Homo sapiens: one gene and its partners. The protein of the gene in region 4 purifies or fractionates together with the protein of the main gene of each other region. This does not show direct contact. Each region holds a gene or a part of one and is shown on either strand. Other genes may lie near its edges.

Region 1 (2,753 bases), on a different chromosome or scaffold from region 4:
GCTGTGTTGGTGCAACTCTAGGGCGTCTCCTGCCTGTGGCTTACTGCAGCTGTGGCCCTCCTGCTCTCTCCATGAGCTCTGAAGGGCTCCTGCTCTCTGCCAGCCCGCACAGCAGTGGAAGGCAGGCAGGGCTGAATAAAGGGTCTGAAAGTCACTGCGGTCACATGAGGTTTGTGGCCTGATCAGTCCACTGAAACTACAAATTGTTTACCTTCTCCTCATCCGTGGGGGAGACCTGCGCCACATAGGCGGTGGTGGCAACATTCTCCTGGGAGGGCTGAATCTCCTGGGGGGTGGCCTAGGCCAGGGGGCCAGCACGGCGGTGGCAGTGATCTCCTGGCCATCAATTTGTCCTGTTGAAAAAGACAGCAAGTCATAAAATATCTAACAAGCATCTACCCTAGACAATGCATGCCACAGTGAAAGACAGGCCTGGGGGGACAATGACAATGTAAGATAATCACAGAAACAGGGCCGGGCATGGTGGCTCACTCCTGTAATCCCAGCACTTTGGGAAGCTGAGGCAGGTGGATCACGAGGTCAGGAGATCGAGACCATCCTGGCTAACATGGTGAAAATGTCTCTACTAAAAAGACAATAAATCAGCTGTGCGAGGTGGCGGGCGCCTATAGTACCAGCTACTCGGGAGGCTGAGGCAGGAGAATGGCGTGAACCCGGGAGGCAGAGGCTGCAGTAAGCAGAGATCGTGCCACTACACTCCAGCCTGGGTAACAAGAGCGAAACTCCGTCTCAAAAAAAAAAAGATAATCACAGAAATAACATCATGACTAATGTTTCATGAGGAAAAGAGGCATAAAAACTAACAGGACACACCAATCTCCACGTGTCGAGGCAGCCTCCCAGGTCAAGAGTCATCCAAGTCAAGAGCTAAAGAATGTGCTGGAGGCCAGACGCGGAGGCTCACGCCTGTAATCCCAGTGCTCTGGGAAGCCAGGCAGGCGGATCACAATGTCAGGAGTTCGAGACCAGCCTGGCTAACATGGTGAAACCCCATCTCTACTAAAAATACAAAAATTAGCCGGGCGTGGTGGCGTGTGCCTGTAATCGCAGCTACTCGGGAGGCTGAGGCAAAACAATCTCTTGAACCCAGGAGGAGGAGGTTGCAGTGAGCTGACATCATGCCACGGCACTCTAGCCTGGGCAACAACTGAGACTCCGTCTCAAGAAAAAAAAAAGAAAAGTAAAGAATGTGCTGGAATCTGCTAGGTGGAAGAGAAGGGCTATGCTGGGCCCTGTGCTGGGAAGGACCCAAAGCACTGGTGAGAGAAGGTAGCATCGAGAGCGAGTGACAGGCAAACAGAAGGCCCCAGGGCCAGGGTGGGGCTTCCTCGCAGGACCATGCAGGCAGTATCCGCGTTTGCGCTTCCTTCTCCTCCAACCAAGGGAAGCTGGGTCTGGGGCTAAGAGAAGTGGGAGAAGTTCTCTTAGGAGGGCTCTGCAGCACTGAGAGGGGCCTGAATCAACATCAAATGATTTGGCAGGGAAACGGAAGGATTCAGGGGACAGCTGGGAAGTAAAATTGCCAGAGCTTGGTGATGGATGGGATGGGGGTGGTGAGGTGTGAACTTCCACTGACGGAGAGGTGGGGCTGCGGTGGGAAGCTGCATGAAGGAAATTTTAGGAGATGCCAAAGACTTTGTGTTTGGAAACAAGCAGTCTCAGAGAGGTGGCTCTGCATGTAGATGGCACTGAAACACACGCCATGTGCATGAAGCGAGGAGAGGCAGTGTGGGATGTGGGCTCCAGGGAGAGAGGAAAGGAAATAGAGGTGCAAACCCAGGAACCCCAGGGGAGCATGCACCCCGACCTCAAGAATTGTCTGGTAGCTGGGGATACTGGGAGCCCAAGCGCAGCCCCTTCTGTGCCCTAAGGGGTAAAGGGCTCTTTTGTTTTCTCAACTACCTTTAAGGCACATGGGGACTAACTCCGGCATGTGGCTATGTATTCAGAACATACTTAAGAGGTTTAACTTCAGTAAACTCAGCCTAAGTTAGCCCAAATTAGGGATTTCACAGCACTGACTCTATAATAATGAAGAAAAATCCATCTTCTGTGTAGCTGCCAGTAAAGGCCAACCCCTTCTCATCTCCTATGGAGACAGCATGGACTCACTCCATTCAAAGACAGAAGGGGAGACACACAAAAAAAATCCTACCAGAATCTTACGAAAAGTTGGAATGTCTGTAATCACGCCCACCCAGAAGGTACCCGGGTCCCCTGGGTTTTTAGCTCAGCAAGCACTCAGACTGTCAAACAGCAGATAATCAGCAGACTCCACAGCAAAGGTGTGACTTACAAGGCCAACAGCTGATGTGAGCGCACAGAGCTCCTAACCCATTTCAGGACTTAAGAAACTTGAAAGAAAAGTTAGCCAAATATCAAGGAAACTTTCCTAATGCCTGAAGGGCAATTACTGAAAAAAACCAGCTAAGCTACTTATACAGTTTGTAACAGGGCCTCGGAAGACGGAAAGTTCTGGGGCACGCACACTCCACTCCCCACCAGGCCTGGCAGCCCAGACAGCACTGTGGGCTGTGTTCTCAGTGCCAGCGGCCTCAGTCACAGCAGCAGGGAGTGGAGCAGAGATGACTCCACATGCCTCAAAATGCTGCACTGAGGACAAAATGCCACCCGAAACTATTCACAAGGGTCCATGTGCTTTTAAAACCATTCTGCCAGATACAAATAGCTATAAACGTCATGAGTGGTTATGAGATACAAGTGTTTAAGAA
Region 2 (3,500 bases), on a different chromosome or scaffold from region 4:
TAGCTGGGCATGGTGGCGTGCACCTATAATCCCAGCTACTCAGAAGACTGAGGCATGAGAATCACTTGAACCCAGGAGGCGGAGGTTGCAGTGAGCCAAGATCATGCCATTGCACTCCAGCCTGGGCAACAGAGCAAAAGTCTGTCTCAAAAAAAAAAAAAAAAAAAAAAAAACAGATGCGGTGGCTCATGCCTGTAATCCCAGCACTTTGGGAGGCCGAGGCGGGTGGATCACTTGAGGTCAGGAGTTTGAGACGAGCCTGGCCAATATGGTGAAACCCTGTCTCTACTAAAAGATACAAAAGTTAGCCAGGCGTGATGGCACGCACCTGTAGTCCCAGCTACTCGGGAGGCTGAGGCAGGAGAATCGCTTGAACCCAGGAGGCAGAGGTTGCAGTGAGCAGAGACTGTGCCACTGCACTCCAGCCTGGGTGACAGAGCGAGACTCCATCTCAAAAAACAACAAAAAAAAAGTGACACAGGTAGGAGATTCAGTACTTTCGGAGGCCAAGGCAGGCGGATCATCTGAGGTCAGAAGTTTGAGACCAGCCTGGCCAACATGGCAAAACCCCATCTCTACTAAAAATACAAAAATTAGCCAGGCATGGTGATGCATACCTGTAATGCCAGCTACTGGGGAGACTGAGGCACAATCGCTTGAACCCAGGAGGCAGAGGTCGCAGTGAGCCAAGATGGCACCACTGTACTCCAGTCTGGGCAACAATGCAAGACTCTGTCTCCAAAAAAAAAAAAAGAAAAAGAAAAAATTAGTCGGGCGTGGTGGCGCATACCTGCGGTCCCAGCTACTTGGGAGGCTAAGGTTGGAGGATCGCTTGAGCCCAGGAGGTCAAGGCTACGGTAAGCTATGATCACACCACTGCACTCCACCCTGGGTAACAGAGCAAGACTCTATCTCTAAAACAAAATAATAATTTATAAACTAAAAATAAATAAAACAGGCTGGGGGCAGTGACTCACGCCTGTAATGCCCAGCACTTTGGAAGGCTGAGATGGGCGGATCACCTGAGGTCAGGAGTTCGAGACCAGCCTGACCAACTTGGAGAAACCCTGTCTCTACTAAAAACACAAAATTAGCCAAGCATGGTGGCACATGTCTGTAATCCCAGCTACTCTGGAGGCTGAGCCAGGAGAATCACTTGAACTTGGGAGGCGGAGGTTGCGGTGAGCTGAGATCGTGCCATTGGACTCCAGCCTGGGCAACAAGAGTGAAACTCCGTTTCAAAAATAAATAAATAAATAAAACAATTCTAAAGAATCCAAAATATAACAGATACTCATAAACCACTTACAGGCACGTAAACTCTCTACCTACCTAAAAAGTCACTCAAGTACTGAGTATCAAGACCGTGAGGATGTTGGAACCCCAGTTTCTGTCTGTTCCTCACTCATTCACTCATCCATCAAACACCTACTACGTGCCAGAGCCCAGGCTGGCTAGGTACCGGGGACACTGGAATCGGTAAGGCACAGTTAGGTCCCTCGATGACTTCAAATTGAAGGTTTGATATTTGTCTATTCCCAAGACCATCTGTTCTCAGGAAATGACTGAAAGTATCACGAAGGTGCGATGCACACAAAGACTGAAAGCAACGTTCCGAACACAAAACATCGGAGAAGGAACAAACGAAAATGCCCATCAAGGGAGTGGAAAACTGAACCATGGTACATGCTCGCAACAGAACATTCAAGACCATTTTAAAAAATGATACTTATAAAGACTTAGCAATAGCAAAGGGAAAGGGCCCACACTGTAATGTACGGGAAACGGCAGAGAGACCCAAGATCCTACCCGCACCTGGGCTCTGCCCAGGACCTACCTTTGACGTTACTCAGCGACAGAGAGCGCTCCTGGTCTACCAGCCCAGGCCCCAGCCGGCCACTGCCGCCACTGTCCTTCTGCCGGGCCACAGCCACTGCAATGCCCACAGGCGGGTGTCGCACTTCTGCCTCACCCTGGGCACCAGAGCCCTCGCGCCCGAAAGCTTTGGCGCTCTCGGGCCTCTCGGGGTCCCGCTTCAGCTGCCGGCCGCCGCCCGCTGCAGGGCCTCCGGAGTGTGGGAGACGGGCCTGGGCTCGGGAGGCACCCGCAGAGGTGGGCGCAGGCTCGGGTTTCATGGTGCCCAAACCTCCAAAGGGGCTCTTCTTGCCACAGCCACCAGGGCGCACGGCCACGGCGTCCCGGGCAAAGCTGCCACTGTACTTTATAAGGCTCTGCATGGCCGAGGCCTCTCCAGACCCGTGGGCCGCAGAGTGCATGTCAGCGACCGGCCGGCCGCAGGTGGCCGCCGAGCGGGGCAGCACAGCCCCAGGGTCCAGGTAGGCCTTCTTGGAGGAGGAGGCAGCGACCACGGCGGCCTCCTCTTCGGCGCGGCTGTGGTGGTGCTGCGCGGCCAGCACGGCCATCTGCGTGGCGGCGAAGTTGCCCAGCTCGAAGGGTTTCCATTTATGCTCAGGGCCGGTGGGCGGGGGGCGCCCGGGCTCCAGGCCGAAGAGCTTGGCGGCCTGTTGGGCTGCAGGACCGGCTGGGCCGCGGGGCGCACGCTCGCAGGGCCTCGGGTCCGCCTCGGGCTTGAGCAGCTCCTTGGCAGGCACGTAGGCGCGGGGGTCCGGGGAGGCGCGTGTGGCCCGCACCGTGGGGGCATCCGCGGGGGGCGGCCGCTTGAGCGAGCGGATGACCGAGTTCTTCTCGCGCAGGCCCTCGGGCCGGTCCAGAGGCCGCGGGGAGCCGGGGGGCGCCTGCAGGACCCCTGGCCTGCCAGCCTCGCGCTCGCGGGCCCGGGCATCGCGCGCCTGGGATGCGATCTGGATGGGCCCCGGGCGCTCGTCGAAGGCCTCCACGGAAGGCACGAAGGTGGGCGCCACCACGCGGTGCTCACGGCCCTGCTCGCGGAAGACGGTGTAGACGCCGGCGGGGGTGGCCGCGGGGGGTGCAGGAGGCCCCTTGGGGGGCGCGGGCGGCGGGGGCAGCGGTGAGGGGCAGGGGCGCGGCCCAGGGAGCAGGGTCTCCGTGCGCCGCAGCAGCCGCGCGCCCTCGTCCTGCCGGGCAGCCTCCTTGGCACCCCCGCGCCCCGCTTCGGCCACCAGCGCGGGCAGCCCCACGTCCCCGGCGCCGCCGTTGCACATGGTCAGTACCGACGGCTGCAGCGCCGCATTCTTGGTCTTGGACTCAGCCAGGAAGGGCGACAGGCGCTCAGCCAGGCGCGGGGGCCCCCGGTCCTGGCGGCCCTCGGCGCGCGCCTCCTGGGTCAGGTCCACCACGCCCCGTGGCCCCGAGGCCTCCTCGCCCCGGGCGCGCGGGTCCTTCTTGCCGAAAAGCGGAGGCGGCTCCCCGCCGCGGCCCGCCCGCTCCTTGGCTGGACCGTCCCGCGACGACGAGCCTTTGGCCGGGGCGCCCGAGGAGTGGCCGCCGCCAGGGGTCCGGGCCGAGGGCGCGTGAGAGTGCAGGGAGCCCGGAGCCCCCGCGGTGGGCAGGTAGAAACC
Region 3 (3,500 bases), on a different chromosome or scaffold from region 4:
AGTTCTCTACAAAGATCAAACTAAATGTCTTTTATTTGGTGATAAAGGATTTCAGATGCAAAATGTAAGTGTTTCACAGACAAAAAACATACCTTATCAAAAAATTAAGAACATGACTGATTTCCTTCTCATCCCGACCTGCAAGCGCATTTGCAAGGACTCCTCTTCGATTTAACTCCTTTATGATGGACACCGTAATCTCGGGTGTCTTTATTGTACAAGTGGGCTAGAAAAATTTTCAAAGTCAACATGAGTAGACAAAACAGCACAAAAAAAATCACTGTCTTGCACTAAATTATCAAGTTTGAATAATATTTATCTTCACAGTTCCAAGTCATGGTAATATGCAGGGTAAGTAATAACATGATTTTTTAAAAAATGCTCACTCACATCAAGAACTCTATCGAGTGCCTTAGAGATCCGAAAATGTTTCAGATCCCTGTCATACAATTCTAGGTGCTTCTTTGCTGGCCTGTTAATCAAAATGTCATCCTGCAATGAAAAGTACATTTATAGAGAAGGAAAATCAGCATCTGTGTAAATATACATTTAATATAAACTTTTTCATAATGAAGTGGTATCTCTGAACTATGTCACAAATAATGTTCATATGCCCATAATGTAGATTAAATAAAAATGCATCCTGCTAATCAGAGTCAAAAAAAGAAAAAAAAAAAGGAGTAACTTGCTACATCAACATGTTCTTACTCTCTTATAATTTTAACTTACAACATGCACCATTGCCTTAATTCTAGGTAAAAATTACTCATTTCAATTCTCTTTATGTGGCAGGCAGTGTGGTACAGTAGAAAGAGAAATCAAACAACAATCAGAGATAATGAGATCTAGTCTCAACAACTCTGGATACCAGTAATGAAATCCTGAATCAATCACAAATTATTTGTCGCTCAGTCTTCTCAGGTGCCAAACAGGGACATGATTGGTTCTACTACTTCTTGGGATTTAGATCAAATCAGGTAGTATGTGAAAGACATTATTTTGAATGCAGTAAAGCATTATAACATTATGTTATGATGCAGAGTATTACATAAAGTAGTCCTTGTTCCCCATTACTCATCAATAATGTCCCCAATCTAGCAATCTAGAAATAATTCTGATGTAGAGAAAAGCAAAATAAAGTGCCATGTGAACTACGCTTTCCAGTAATGTGCAGGGATGAAGCTGGCTACTCTAACAAATTTCACCCTTTAAACAAATATGAGAAATGCACAAATACCCGTTGCTTCATGTAATTTTTTCCTTTAATAAAGGTTCGATATGCAGGCCTTCTTCTTCTGGGAAGTGATTCCTTCTTTGCTTCAGATTTCCGATGTTTAACACTCAGTATTCCATTGGTCATTCCTACAACTATTGTCTCATCTTCATGCTAATAACAATTAGAAAAATAAGTTAGTCTATTCTTAACTCGTAATTTATAGTACTTTTACTTCAAAACACATTTACCATGTGTTTGCTGCTTGTCCATACATTCACCAACAGTTCCATTCAAATACACATAGTCTGCCTAACGATGATTGGTGCAAGACGTTAAAGCGAAATCATTTTTTCCTTAGGATACAACTACATTGACAGAACTTATACTTGTAAAATATCACTGGCAAAGTTTGTATAATACATAGTTAACGGCATCAAAGATTACACAGTAGCAAGACTTTTATGATCTTGCCCCCCAAAAATATTTTTAATAAGCTTTTCCTCTCCCAAATCAGATTTCTATATAATATAGTCAAATGCCTTCCTGCCCAAATGTGGCTTCTCATAAAACTTGACAGTATACATTTCAGAAAGAGCAGTAACAAAGAAAAGGAGATATTTCATTTTGTTGTCCCCTTCTCCCCACATCTTTTTTTCTGCTCAGAGAGCTAATCTGCCTTTCTAGTGTACTATAATACTCTTGAGTTAAATGAGTTGAAGAGAGATTTACCAGCTTCCCAGGTCCTGCGTTTAATGTTAACAATGCCTAGAGCACTGTATTTAGTTTGAAGTTCTACAGTGAGTGGGACCTAAATCTGAATTCATGCTGAGTCAATAGGACGAGTTACATATTCCAGCAATTGTCTTAACTCAAATATCTGATGTGGCAAGAAAAGTTACTCAAATCTAAAAATAAAGCCCAAAGTTCCATTTTAGTTTCATTTAACAGGCAGGGTTAGTGACAGACTTAAAAATAGGTAAAGGTACTTACTGCAAGGGCAAGACTCAAAATTGAAGCTGCATAATCAAAACTGTGGACTACTTTGTAGGAAGTTGTGCTGTATACTTTCACCTTCCTAATAAAAAGGAAAAGCTTTGTCAAAAATCACCTTGAAAACGAGTATAAAATGCAAATTTCTATTTTCTGAAAACAAAATACAAACATTAAAATCTGTACAACAGTGAAGAAAAACAAAGATTAGTAATGTTAATTACAAACTAATTCATCACTGAATCCCTTAAAAAATGAGCTGTAGGCCGGACACGGTGGCTCACACCTGTAATTCAAGCACTTTGGGAGGCCAAGGTGGGTGAATCACCTGAGGTCAGGAGTTCGAGACCAGCCTGACCAACATGGTGAAACTCCATCTCTACTAAAAATACAAAATAGCTGGGCGTGGTGGCACATGCCTGTAATCCCAGCTACTTGGGAAGCTGAGGCAGGAGAATTGCTTGAACCTGGGAGGTGGAGGCTGCAGTGAGCCAAGATTGTGCCACTGCACTCCAGCCTGGGCGACAAGAGCAAAGCTCTGTCTAAAAAAAAAAAAAAAGAGCTGTATACCAGCCCTAACTATAACATCCGTATAAAAACTTTGACTAGCCACTTATAAAAAAAATAGAAGGGCCGGGTGTGGTGGCTCAGGTCTGTAATCCCAGCACTTCGGGAGGCCAAGGTGGGCAGATCACTTGAGGCCAGGAGTTCAAGACCAGCCTGGCCAACACGGCATAACCCGATGTCTACCAAAAATAATAAAAACTAGCCAGGTGTGGTGACACACACCTGTAATCCCAGCTACTCAGGAGGCTGAGGCATGAGAATTGCTTCAACCTGGGAGGCAGAGGTTGCAGTGAGCCGAAATCGTGCCACTGCCCTCCAGCCTGGGCCACAGAGTAAGACTCTGTTTCAAAAATTTAAAAAGAAAAAAAGGAAAAAAAAAAAACAGAAGGACAGACCATGAGCCACTGTCATCTGAAGATCAAACTTGGGAGTAAAGAAAAGGTATTAGCCGGGTGCGGTGGCTCACACCTGTAGTAATCCCAGCACTTTTGGAGGCCGAGGTGGGCAGATCACCTGAGGTCGGGAGTTAAAGAGCAGCCTGACCAACATGGAGAAACCCTGTCTCTACTAAAAATACAAAATCAGCCGGGCATGGTGGCACATGCCTGTAATCTCGGCTACTTGGGAGCTGAAGCAGGAGAATCACATGAACCCAGGAGGCAGAAGGTGCGGTGAGCCGAGACCGCGCCATTGCACTCCAGCCTGGGCAACAAGAGTGAAACTCCAT
Region 4 (5,052 bases):
ATAATAGTGGTGGAGGCCAGGTGCGGTGGGTCATGCCTGTAATCCCAGCACTTTGGGAGGCCAAGGCAGTCAGATCACGAGGTCAGGAGTTCGAGACCAGCCTGACCAACATAGTGAAACCCCCATCTGTACTAAAAATACAAAAATTAGCCAGGCATGGTGGCACACACCTGTAGTCTCAGCTACTTGGGAGGCTGAGGCAGGAGAATCACTTGAACCCGGAAGACAGAGGTTGTGGTGAGCCGAGATTGCACTACTGCATTCCAACCTGGGCAACACAGCAAGACTCCGTCTCAAAAAAAAAAAAAAGAGTGGTGGAAGCAGCTCTTTATAGGTAGAGCCCTGCTTACTAGAATAAAAGCTGAAACCTTCTTTCCCCATCTAGAGATTTCCTTCTGGAGTAAGAACATTACAGGAAAACCTCTAGATCCAGATGAACAACCCTAACATCCCCCAGCTCAAGTATAGACAGAAGGCCCCTCCCCCAAAACTCCCCCAAATGGTCAAAAAACCCCCTATTTAAAAATTTCCTTTAACGTACCTGAGATAGGCTAGCATATTCAGATTTGTTTCTTGTTGTTTTTACTTAAAACAGAGTAGGTTTACTGAGTGCAGGCATCTAACTTGACAGCTCATATTGTAAGAGGCAGGACCCTGGAAGGCAAAAGAGCGGATTACCCCGAAGCAGACCTGCATCCAGACCCCAGCTCTGCCATCAACAGGGACATGCAGCTTACCTCTGTGAGCCCAATTTGCCTCGCAAAAATGGGAGTTTTGTTTTTTGTTTTGTTTTGTTTTTTTGAGATGGAGTTTCCCTGTTGTTGCCCAGGCTAGAGTGCAATGGCGCGATTTCAGCCCACCTCAACCTCTGCCTCCTGGGTTCAAGAGATTCTCCTGCCTCAGCCTCCCAAGTAGCTGGGATTACAGGCATGCACCATCACGCCCGGCTAATTTTGTATTTTTGGTAGAGACGGTTTCTCCGTGTTGGTCAGGCTGGTCTCAAACTCCCGACCTCAGGTGACCTGCCAGCCTAGCCTCCCAAAGTGCTGGGATTACAGGCGTGAGCCACCGCGCTCAGCCAAAATGCCCCTGATAGTGTGGTAGGGATTTCCTTTATTGTTTGTTTGCTTGTTTGTTTTGAGACAGGGTCTCATTCTGTCTCCCAGCCTGGAGTGCAGTGGTGCAATCATGGCTCACTGCAGCCTCTACCTCGTGGGCTCAAGCAGTCCTCCCACCTCAGCCTCCCTAGTAGCTGGGACTACAAGCACACACCACCATGCCCAGCTAATTGTTTGTATTTTTGGTAGAGACTGTTTTGCTATGTTATCCAGGCTGTTCTGCATCTCCTGAGTTCAAACAGTCTGCCCACCTCGGCTTCCCAAAGTGCCGGGACTAGAGGCGTGAGCCACCACACCCAACTCCATTGTATTGAATTTTAAGAAGCTGGTGAGACTGATATTATCCCATTTACAGATGAGGAAAGCAGGGCCCAAAAGGTTCGGGAACTTGTCTGAAATCTCACAGCTCTCAGGTCATTGTCTTCCAAAGGGGGACCCAAGCTCAGTGCCTTCACTCCCAGACCCTGGTGTCCTCTCTGGCCTTATTTACTCCTGGTCCTCTGCCAGCCCTGCCACCAGATGGCCTTCTAACTCCTTGGTTGAAAGGCCCATCTCATTCAGCTTCCAGCTTCCTTTTTCTTTTCCTTTTGAGACGGAGTCTTGCTTTGTCGCCCAGGCTGGAGTGCAGTGGCATGATCTCGGCTCACTATAACTTCTGCTTCCTGGGTTCAAGCGATTCTCCTGCTTCAGCCTCCCAAGTAGCTGAGATTACAGGCACACACCACCATGCCCAGCTAATTTTTTTATTTTTATTTATTAATTTTTAAATTTTTATTTGTTTATTTATTTTTGAGACGGAGTCTCCCTCTGTTCCCCAGGCTGGAGTGCAGTGGCAGTATCTTGACTCACTGCCACCTCCGCCTCCTGGGTTCAAGTGATTCTCCTTCCTCAGCCTCCTGAGTAGCCGGGACTACAGGAGCCTGCCACCATGCCCGACTAACTTTTGTATTTTTAATAGAGATGGGGTTTCACCATGTTGGCCAGACTGCTCTCGAACTCCTGACCTTAGATGATCCACCTGCCTCGGCCTCCCAAAGTGCTGGGATTACAGGCATGAGCCACCATGCCCGACCTAATTTTTGTGTTTTTAGTAGAGATGGGGTTTCAACATGTTGGCCAGGCTGGTCTCAAACTCCTGACCTCAAGTGATCCACCCACCTCAGCCTCCCAAAATGTTGGGATTATAGGCATGAGCCACCGTGCCCATCCCACAGAATGTCTTTTGGTTTTGTTTTTGTTTTCTGTTTTGTTTTGTTTTGTTTTGTTTGAAAAGGAGTCTCATTCTGTCGCCCAGGCTGGAGTGCAGTGGCACAATCTCGGCTCACTGCAACCTCCACCTCCCAGGTTCAAGAGATTCTCCTGCCTCAGCCTCCCAAGTAGCTGGGACTATAGGCGTAGGGACTGTAGGCGTATGCCACCACGCCTGGCTAATTTTTTGTATTTTTAGTAGACACGGGGTTTCACCATGTTAGCCAGGATGGTCTCGATCTCTTGACCTTGTGATCTGCTCACCTCAGCCTCCCAAAGTGTTGGGATTACAGGCGTGAGCCACAGCGCCTGGCCAAAATGTTTTTATGTTTATTTTTCTTAGTATGAAACTCCAGCGTATTAAAGAGCATTGAGAACGGTTGATCTGGTAAATCGCTATAAAGGCGGCATTTCTTTTTTTTTTTTTTTTTTTTTTTTTTTGGCGAAGTGGGGGATGGAGTCTCATTCTGTCGCCCAAGCTGGAGTGCAGTAGTGTGATCTCGGCTCACTGCAAGCTCCGCTTCCCAGGTTCAAGCCATTCTCCTGCCTCAGCCTCCCAAGTAGCTGGGATTACAGGCGCCCGCCACCACGCCCAGCTAATTTTTTGTATTTTTAGTAGAGACAGGGTTTCACTGTGTTGGCCAGGCTGGTCTCGAACTCCTGACCTCATGATCCGCCCGCCTCGGCCTCCCAAAATGCTGGGATTAGAGGCGTGAGCCACCGCGCCAGGCCTAAAGGGGGCATTTCTAATACTGGAGAAAGGTGAACTTTTTTTTTTTTTTTTTTCCGAGACAGAGTCTCGCTGTGTCACCCAGGCTGGAGTGCAATGGCGCAATCTCAGCTTGCTACAACCTCCGCCTCCCGGGTTCAAGCAATTCTCCTGCCTCAGCCTCCTGAGTAGCTGGGCACCTGCCATCATGCCCAGCTAATTTTTGTATTTTTGTAGAGATGGGGGTTTCACCGTGTTGGCCAGGCTGGTCTTAAACTCCTGTCCTGACCTGAGGTGATCCACCCACCTCAGCTTCCCAAAGTGCTGGGATTACAGGCATGAGCCACTGTGCCTGACCAGGTGAACTATTTTATAAATAATATTGGAACATTTGGCTCATCTAGGGAAAAACAAGAGTCCCACCTCACACCTAATCAAAAAGTAAATTCCAGCAGATTAAATACCTGAATATGACAGGAAGGTACACACCAAATTCATGGGACAGATGGCCTGGGGAGGAATGAAACTTGGAAGGCGGTATCACGGTAAACTACCTTTATCTGTGATGATTTTATTTCCTTAAAATAAATTATACTACAAACATGACAGTACATTAACAAACCCTGTGGTAGGAATGGGGTTGTGTATTGTATTATACTTTGTATTTTTGAGAGTTTTTTAATTTCTTTTTTGTTGTTGTTGAGACAGAGTCTCACTCTGTCACCCAGGCTGGAGTCCAGTCGCGCAATCTTGGCTCACTGCAACCTCTGCCTCCCGGGTTCAAGCAGTTCTCTGCCTCAGCCTCCCAAGTAGCTGGGATTACAGGCATCCGCCACCACGTCAGGCTAATTTTTGTATTTTTAGTGGAGACGGGGTTTCACCATCTTGGCCAGACTGGTCTTGAACTCCTGACCTCATGATCCACCCACCTTGGGCTCCCAGAGTGCTGGGATTACAGGCATGAGCCACCGCGCCTGGCCGAGTTTTTTAATTTCTAAAAATAAAAATGAGTATACATCTAAAGTAGTAGAAGAAAATGCAGAGAATGTTTTATAATCTTAAAATAGAGCCTTCCTAAGAGTGAAGTGAAATAAAAAGTCAGAAAATAATATATTGATATAGATTTAACTACATGAAAATTTTAGGCCGGGTGCGATAGCTCACACCTGTAATCCCACACTTTGGGATGCCAAGGTAGGCAGATCACTTGAGCCAGGAGTTCAAGACCAGCCTGAACAACACAGTGAGACCTGGTCTGTACAAAAAATACAAAATTAGCCAGGCGTGGTGGTACGTGGCTGTCGTCCTGTAGTCCCAGTTACTCAGGAGGCTGAGGTGGGAGGATCGCTTGAGCCCAGGTGGGGCAGAGTTTGCAGTGAGCAAGATCATGCCACCGCACTGCAGCCTGGGCAACAGGGTGAGACCTTGTCTCAAAAAGAAAAAAAAAGCTTTTTTAAAGATAGATAGAAGAAAATGTTTGCAATATGTATAACACATACAGTATATAGAACCCTCATATCAATATATATAATTTCCAAAGAAAAAGTGGATAAAGAATATGAGCAATTCATTCACAAAAAATACAAATAGCCAAAAGACATGAAAAAGAAAAAAACATTGTTAATAAAATAATTTTTTAATCTATCCAACTGGCAAAATTAAAAGGGTTGATGATATTCAATTTTGGTAAAGGAAGACATAGGCACACTTGTATATTGGCACAAACTTATTGAGAGCAGTTTGACCAAATTGCGCATGTCCTTTGACTCAGAAATTCCACTTATGAAAATCTACCCCCACAGAAAGACTGTAAGATACTCATGAGGCTGAACATTTTTTGAAACAAAGTCTATCGATATTGGGGTAAGGAGATTTGTTTTGTACACACAGTGGAACACTAATTATAAAGTCGTCAAAAAGTATGAGGTAGACTGTATATATTCCTGTGGAAAAATATAAATGAGATGTTAAATGAAA

The links. Proteins that work in one complex are often made in the same cells at the same time.
Region 1: the proteins of NFKBIL1 (region 4) and RNPS1 purify together in Homo sapiens (co-immunoprecipitation; 3 studies listed by BioGRID and IntAct, with this or other methods). This does not show direct contact.
Region 2: the proteins of NFKBIL1 (region 4) and TNRC18 purify together in Homo sapiens (affinity purification with mass spectrometry; one large-scale study listed by BioGRID and IntAct). This does not show direct contact.
Region 3: the proteins of NFKBIL1 (region 4) and UTP15 purify together in Homo sapiens (affinity purification with mass spectrometry; one large-scale study listed by BioGRID and IntAct). This does not show direct contact.

The regions. Positions count from the first base shown.
Region 1 is NC_000016.10:2,255,374-2,258,126, forward strand, and holds part of RNPS1 (RNA-binding protein with serine-rich domain 1), read right to left. Parts: intron 354-2,753; coding exon 212-353; intron 1-211. UniProt on the Homo sapiens protein: Part of pre- and post-splicing multiprotein mRNP complexes. Auxiliary component of the splicing-dependent multiprotein exon junction complex (EJC) deposited at splice junction on mRNAs.
Region 2 is NC_000007.14:5,385,835-5,389,334, forward strand, and holds part of TNRC18 (trinucleotide repeat-containing gene 18 protein), read right to left. Parts: coding exon 1,838-3,500; intron 1-1,837.
Region 3 is NC_000005.10:73,575,743-73,579,242, reverse strand, and holds part of UTP15 (U3 small nucleolar RNA-associated protein 15 homolog), read right to left. Parts: intron 2,292-3,500; coding exon 2,207-2,291; intron 1,388-2,206; coding exon 1,238-1,387; intron 493-1,237; coding exon 391-492; intron 227-390; coding exon 93-226; intron 1-92. UniProt on the Homo sapiens protein: Ribosome biogenesis factor. Involved in nucleolar processing of pre-18S ribosomal RNA. Required for optimal pre-ribosomal RNA transcription by RNA polymerase I.
Region 4 is NC_000006.12:31,549,906-31,554,957, forward strand, and holds part of NFKBIL1 (NF-kappa-B inhibitor-like protein 1), read left to right. Parts: intron 1-5,052. UniProt on the Homo sapiens protein: Involved in the regulation of innate immune response. Acts as negative regulator of Toll-like receptor and interferon-regulatory factor (IRF) signaling pathways.